2 linked regions of the Homo sapiens genome follow. Changing the gene in region 2 together with the main gene of any one other region gives a genetic interaction. Each region holds a gene or a part of one and is shown on either strand. Other genes may lie near its edges.

The links.
Region 1: changes in PRKCZ (region 2) and PTPRZ1 together harm fitness more than expected from each alone (negative genetic interaction), as found in Homo sapiens cells (one large-scale study listed by BioGRID).

The regions. Positions count from the first base shown.
Region 1 is NC_000007.14:121,871,540-121,875,288, forward strand, and holds the start of PTPRZ1 (receptor-type tyrosine-protein phosphatase zeta isoform 1 precursor), read left to right. Parts: upstream 1-1,621; 5' UTR 1,622-1,960; coding exon 1,961-2,018; intron 2,019-3,749. UniProt on the Homo sapiens protein: Protein tyrosine phosphatase that negatively regulates oligodendrocyte precursor proliferation in the embryonic spinal cord. Required for normal differentiation of the precursor cells into mature, fully myelinating oligodendrocytes.
Region 2 is NC_000001.11:2,147,805-2,151,453, reverse strand, and holds part of PRKCZ (protein kinase C zeta type), read right to left. Parts: intron 2,583-3,649; coding exon 2,530-2,582; intron 665-2,529; coding exon 476-664; intron 1-475. UniProt on the Homo sapiens protein: Calcium- and diacylglycerol-independent serine/threonine-protein kinase that functions in phosphatidylinositol 3-kinase (PI3K) pathway and mitogen-activated protein (MAP) kinase cascade, and is involved in NF-kappa-B activation, mitogenic signaling, cell proliferation, cell polarity, inflammatory response and maintenance of long-term potentiation (LTP).

The DNA of each region.
Region 1 (3,749 bases), on a different chromosome or scaffold from region 2:
AATATTAAATAAAACTTTCTCTGAACTCTCAGTGCACAGTCAGTTTATACACCTGCATACTTCTTGTAATGCTAGCAAAAAAAAATGGCCCCCAAATTTTCTTCCTATATGGAAACTCACATGAGCAGCCATCAATCCCCATCATAATTCTTGTAAAAGTTGTAGCATTTCTATTTCTGTTCATGGAAAGAATAAGATCAAGGATCAACTTCTTAATATTGATATGTGTTTCTGAATAAACACTAAATGGTTTCAAAATCTGTTATTACATGACTATAATCTATTCCTGAAGCAACAGCAAACTGCCATTAGCTTGCACATTTAGCCAAATGTTCACAGGCTGGGATATTAGCAAGAACTCGTAGTAACACTTGAAATACATTCAGAACCCAATTTTATGTGCAGGAAGTTTTCTTTAAAATTTTTAAAGCTAGAATACTATTTTTGAGACAAGAACAGGACACAAGAGTATACACTGTACAGATACCTACTTCAAATTGTTACTAAGAATACATGGGATAATTCCACAACTTGGCTTTCTGTGCCTTAGATGGGACTCCTAAAAGGCTCTAAAGTGGGTCTCATATACGAAAAACATGTACTAATAGTTAAAGGATATCATATAAATGAAAATCTCATAAATTTTCAGTGTAGAGACTACCACCAATTACCTTCTCATTATTTCCTTTTGGCTTCAAATTAATTCAACAAATATTCAGGGAACACCTATTGATTTTTTTTAAGGCCATTTTGCTAGGATCTGGGGTTATAGTAATAAAGGTAAACTCCCTGCCATCAAGGCGCTCACAGTCTAATTCTGAACACCACCAAAGAAAAGAGCACATGAGGGTGACATTTCCAGCTCTAAGGCAGCAGAAGGTATGCATTATACATTTTTTGCATACCCTTCAATCAAGCAATAAAAAATCTTCCCGTTCGACCCTGTGGGAGGAGGCACTTGTGTGGTTCGGTCTGGCAGGACCACCGCCGTGTTGAAAGTCCCCCCAGACAGCTGTGCCCAGCACGGCAGTTTCGTTGGGGTCTAGGGAAAGGGCAGGGTCAGACTGGTCACAATCAGGGCTGGAGATTTTTTGGAGTCAACTCTCCCAAAGGCAATGGGGTCTACTGCTTTATTAGGAAAATGGAAAGAAAAAAGGGAGGGAAACAATGTACCCAGGCGCCCCCACCGCATTCTGATTGGACCCACTTAAGCATCTGCAGAAAACAATAAAATGAAAAAAACTCTTAGAGGTGAAACTCAAAGGTCAACCTCTGGCTGTGCGGGACAATGGGTGTCCGGCCTTCCCTTCCCTTCCCTTCCGAAGTGATGAAGGAGTTCCAATGTTCTGCGAACACTGGAAACCCCAGCGGATCCCTCTAACTCCAGGGCAGCGAAACCACTGGCAGCGGACAGAGGGAGGATTGTCGGTGTGTGAATTGCTACCCTGGGATCCGGACCCAGAGCGGCAGCCGCGCCCCTCCGCCCCCCGCGCGACCCCGGGTCCGAGGCACGCTCCCAGCGGAGCGGTCCTGCGCCCCCGCCCCCTCCAGGAGCCGCGGCGCGCACAGCCGGGCTGGAGCGCGCACCCGGCACTGAGGCTTCGCTGCTCTCGGAGCGCTCAGACCGCGGCCGCCGCAGCCGGCGAAAGAGGCAAAGTCCCGCACGCCGGAGGACATGCGCCTCGGCTAGCGGCCCCGGGCCCCACCACCGTGCGGCTTTCTCCAGATTATTCCTCTCTCGCTGTCTCTGACTGTCTCTCTCTGTCTCTGTCTCTGTCTCTCTCTCTCTCACACACACACACACACACACAAACACACATACGCACGCACGATCTCACTTCGATCTATACACTGGAGGATTAAAACAAACAAACAAAAAAAACATTTCCTTCGCTCCCCCTCCCTCTCCACTCTGAGAAGCAGAGGAGCCGCACGGCGAGGGGCCGCAGACCGTCTGGAAATGCGAATCCTAAAGCGTTTCCTCGCTTGCATTCAGCTCCTCTGTGTTTGCCGCCTGGGTGAGTGAGAAGAGCTCGGTGGGGTTTCAGCTCCGGGATCGGTGGGATGAGGGTGGGAGCATTTCAGCGTGTCCGCGACTTGCCGCCGCCGCCGCCATCTAGCCAGGAGGAAAAAGGGACAGCCAACTGGGCTCCCACGGAGCGGGCGGCCGCGCGGTGCAGGCAGCTGCGTGGGATTTGCGCGCCCCCTCCCCGCCCCGCGCCCTCGCCCCTTCCATCGGCCCGCGGGCATTCGTGCCCCGGGCCCCAGGAGACGGAGCTACTGGAGACGGAGGGCTACTCGGATCCCTGCCGCCACCGTTCTTCTCTCCTCTTTTGCAAAGTGTAGAAATCGCCTTTTAGATATACATAGGAAGATAAATGACCAGAAATACAGCTGTGGTGCGGGGCTGTGTACTGTACTGTCTTTTTTGCTGTTCATTTTTATGCTATAGGTATGATGGGCTTAAATGGAAAGTACACGTGTCTGGTGTGAATTGCAGACACACACACACACACACACACACACCTGAAAGGTAGTAACAGGCACAAGCACCAACCTGACTTTTCAGGGTTTTTTTTATTACTTTCAATTTAGTCATATTCAAGTCTGCGCAATTACTTACAAAAAAAAAAGTTCCATCTAAATCTCTAGGTTTGGTCAGTGCTGCCAAAGTCAGAGGAGAGCTGCAGGTTGATATACTTATTCACAGATTTCATTTTTCATCTGCACCCTCCAGGTTACATTTAAAACTGAAATTGCATTCAGCAATAGCCAGTTTAAGCATTCCCTTTACCTGCGATGCAGACTCAAGTTTTCCAGTCATTTTCGAGAAGTGCAAGATTGGACTTTTGCGTTTTATTAAAGAAATGCTTTTTTTCCTTCATGATTTTCCATCGCGATAGAATATAATGGGTTTACGCATTAACCTGAAAGTTACAAAGTGTTGTACTTCGCTTTGTGAGTACACATATTTAATTCTTTTCAGAGGCTCCCAATTTTTCAATTTTAGATGGTTCATAGTAGAGTAGATATTAAGCGTACATTTTCATCCAATAGATGGTGCTGCTCTTGGCACAGTAACCTTTACAAACAGAAACTATTTTTAAGTTCTAATAAATGAAAATTACATTGCAAATACGGTGATAATTGCCCATAGACCCCCACACACGGACATAATTTAAATTTCAAAGGCTTTATGAAAGTGCTTGGGGTGGTGTGATGCATAGTTGACACATAAGACATGCAAGGGAATCTCTGGTCTCCATTGATTCTAAAACCTTATAGTCAGTTCTGGAGAGGGGAAGACAGCTTTAAAAAGTACGTGGTCATCAAACATCTGTTGAATTCACATTTCTATTGTAGATCTATTTTAACAAAGAAGGCAGGTCCTCTTAGTAATTAAATTATGTAAGTAAATATCACAGTAGCAAGGAAATAAACCAGAGAGTATTGCTTTGTATGTCTTCAAAACCACATGCCCAGAGCATGTTGCGGATCTCTTTGAAAAAAAAAAAAAGATAAAATTCACACATTATACAATTCATCTTTTTAAAATGGTCCAGTGGTTTTTAATATATTCGTGAAGTTGTGCAGCCATCACCACTAATTCCAGAATGTTTTAATGACCCCAAAAAGAAACCCCATGTTCCTTAGCAGCCATTCCCCATTCTCCATGACCCCAGCTCCTAGCAACCACTAATCTACTTTCTGTCTCTATAAATTTGCCTATCCTGGACATTTCATATAAA
Region 2 (3,649 bases):
GTGATGACATCCTAAAACTCAACCGCAGTCTGCTGGAAGGCAACGTATCAGTGGTTGGCCATACATGAGAAGGTTGCAGAGACCACGATACCCATCTTCACCTTTTCTAAGCTTAGACACGTGAGTGCTCTCGTGGTGGTCCCCTCACTGCCTGCAGTGTGCAGTGCACTAACAGCCGTACGGGCTTGCAGCCTGGGAGCAGGAGCTGCACTGTGCATCTTGGCTGTGGAGTTGGCTGTGCTGTTTGGGTTTGTGGAGTGCACACTGTGATGTTCACACAACAGTGCCATTACCTAACCAGGCACTTTCCAGAACACATCCTGGTCATTACACGATGCATGACTATTGATTTTGCACAAACTCCGTCAACGTGAGGCTAGGTCTCTCGTGCATGGATTAATTCCGCTAAAGCCCGGAGGAGGCCCCAGGGCAGCGCGTTCCCGGGCCCCCGGGCCCCATGAGAAGCGGCACCTACCTCGTCATCATGCACCAGCTCTTTCTTCACCACTTTCATGGCGTAAATTTGGTCATTCTTCTTCAACCGCACCAGGAGAACCTTGGCGTAGCTCCCGCGCCCGATGACTCTGATTAGGTCAAAGTCCTGCAGCCCAAGCCCCTGAGAGATTTTGATTCCATCCATCCCATCGATAACTGGCTTAAGGTCCTAGGGAGGGAGAACAAGACCCCAGAAAGTGAGAGGGGGGTTCCCGGGAGACTCAGAGGACCACGCATCACTCATGCGGTCCCAACAGAGACCTGCTCCTCAGAGCCCAGGGCCTCATGATTCGAGTCTCAGTTCTGCGTCCCACATATCCCACCCCCAAACTCCCATCTAAACTGGGGCATGAAAGGTAAGAATTTAAGGCTGTGTGCTTCTGAGGAAGGTGCTAGAAAGCTAGAAGCTGTTCGTTCCACAGACCATGGCTCTGGTCACAGCTGCAGGTGGGAGGGACCCCCAGGCCCTCAGCCCTATCAGTGGGGCTGAAGAGGTGGCCACAGGGACATGTGGCCCAGGGCCTGGGCCCATCCTTCCTGATCAGTGCCCTCCCTCAGGGGAAGGAAGGTAAAGCGAATGCAGCTAATGCCTGCCAAGAGCTCCCAAACCGGCAGGCACACATTATTAGAAATAATTATTAGAAATACCCAGGAGAAAGGCGCTCCGAGGAAGAACAGAAGCCTCTGCCTCCCGCAAGCTACACCTGGCAAGGAGGTCGGGGTGGAGGAGGCGGTTCCTTGGGAGGTGCTGTTCTGTGCGGCAAAATGGATTCTGCTTTTTTTTTTTTTTTTTTTTTGAGACGGAGTCTGGCTCTGTCGCCCAGGCTGGAGTGCAGTGGCACGATCTCGACTCACTACAAGCTCCACCTCCCGGGTTCACGCCATTCTCCTGCCTCAGCCTCCCCAGTAGCTGGGACTACAGGCGCCCGCCACCACGCCCAGCTTTTTTTTTTTTTGTATTTTTAGTAGAGACGGGGTTTCACCGTGTTAGCCAGGATGGTCTCCATCTCCTGACCTCGTGATCTGCCCGCCTCAGCTTCCCAAAGTGCTGGGATTACAGGCGTGAGCCACCGCGCCCAGCCGGATTCTGCTTTTTTTGAGACAGACTCTTCCTCTGTCGCCCAGGCTGGAGTGCAGTGGTGCGATCTCAGCTCACTGCAGCCTCCACCTCCCAGGCTCAGGCGATCCTCCCACCTCAGCCTCCCAAGCAGCTAGGACCACAGGCCCGTGCCACCATGCCCAGCTAATTATTTTGTATTTATTTTTGTAGGAACAGGGTCTCGCTATGCTGCCCAGGCTGTTCTCGAGCTCCTGGACTCAAGCGATGTGCGCAGCCTCCCAAAATGCTGGGATTGGAGGTGTGAGTCGCCGTGCTCAGCCTCAGATTCTGCTTTCTAAGTGCCCCGGCCTCCCTCCAGACACAGGATGGCCAGGAAGGAGCACGAGTTGTGAGGGTGACACTTGTTGGTGCTCTGGAAAGGAGTGGGCTTCGCTAGTGCAGTCCTTCCCTGGGTTTTACGAGCAGAGGCTGAGAACGCAGCAAGCTCTTCTGTTCCCTTCTCAGGGTTTATGGTGCAGAGCTGGCCACAGACGTGAGGCTCAGTTGAGCCTCTTGGCTCAAGTTGGGGAAGGACATGAAAGGGCTTCAGAGGGTTTGCCAGGATGGCCAAATGAGGCAACACAATTCGGAAGGCATGGTGCAGACACAACTTGATAAAAATTGCAGCTCAAAAGCCAGCCCCTGGGCCACTGTACCACCTGAATGGAGAGGATGTGGGGCACGGCTTCCCCCGCAGGGTGTGGTCCCCAGACCACCTGCGGGGACAGCTGCCTGCAGGTATTCATCAAGGACATGCCTGAAGTAAGACCCAAGAATAAGGACTTCCTTCTAGACATCCACACCCGTGAAGATTAGTTAGCAACACCCCGGACCATGTCTATTTCACATCTAGATTTCCGTGACTACCCCAGAGACAGGCTCACAGACTTTCCAGAGGACGTCGGAAATGGCAGCGAGCTGCTCCACACACTCACCTCCGAGTCGTCTTTAATGCTGTCATGCTTCCGGGATGAGGAAATGTAAGCAACTGGTGAGAGAGGGAGGAAGGAAGGGGCGTTACGGTGTGGTCAGGAACGCACTGGGAACACAGCGACCCTGTGGACCTTGCTCCTCTGCAGGGTGACGGTGAAGGGTGAATCCACACAGCAGCCATGTCTGATTCTAATTTAGAGTCTTCTGAAAATGCAGTTTCCTGGGCCCCACTCACACCTGCCGACTCTGACCATGGGACCTGGGGATGTACATTCGTGACATACGTCCCCAGGGGTCCATCTGCAAATAATTCGTCACCGGATTTTGGTGTCTAGTGAATGGGTGGGTAGGGGCAGGAGTGGATGTCTGGTGGATGGATGGAGGATGACTAGATGGGGGATGAATGGAGGCCTGGATAGAAGACGGATAGATGGAGAGGTCAGTGCACAATGGATGGATAGATGGAGAGGTCAGTGGACAATAGATGGATGGATAGATGGAGAGGTTAGTGGACAATAGATGGATGGATAGACGGAGAGGTCAGTGGACAATAGGTGGATAGATGGAGAGGTCAGTGGACAGTGGATGGACAGATGGAGAGGTCAGTGGACAATAGATGGATGGATAGATGGAGAGGTCAGTGGACAATAGATGGATAGATGGAGAGGTCAGTGGACAACAGATAGATGGATAGACGGAGAGGTCAGTGGACAACAGACGGAAAGATGGAGAGGTCAGTGGACAACAGACAGATGGGTGGACAGGTCAGTGGACAACAGACAGATGGATAGATGGAGACGTCAGTGGACAATAGATGGATGGATAGATGGAGAGGTCAGTAGACAATAGATGGATGGATAGATGGAGAGGTCAGTGGACAGTGGATGGATAGATGGAGAGGTCAGTGGACAATAGATGGATGGATAGATGGAGAGGTCAGTGGACAATAGATGGATAGATGGAGAGGTCAGTGGACAATAGATAGATGGATAGACGGAGAGGTCAGTGGACAACAGACGGAAAGATGGAGAGGTCAGTGGACTACAGACAGATGGGTGGACAGGTCAGTGGACAACAGATAGATGGACAGATGGAGACGTCAGTGGACAATAGATGGATGGA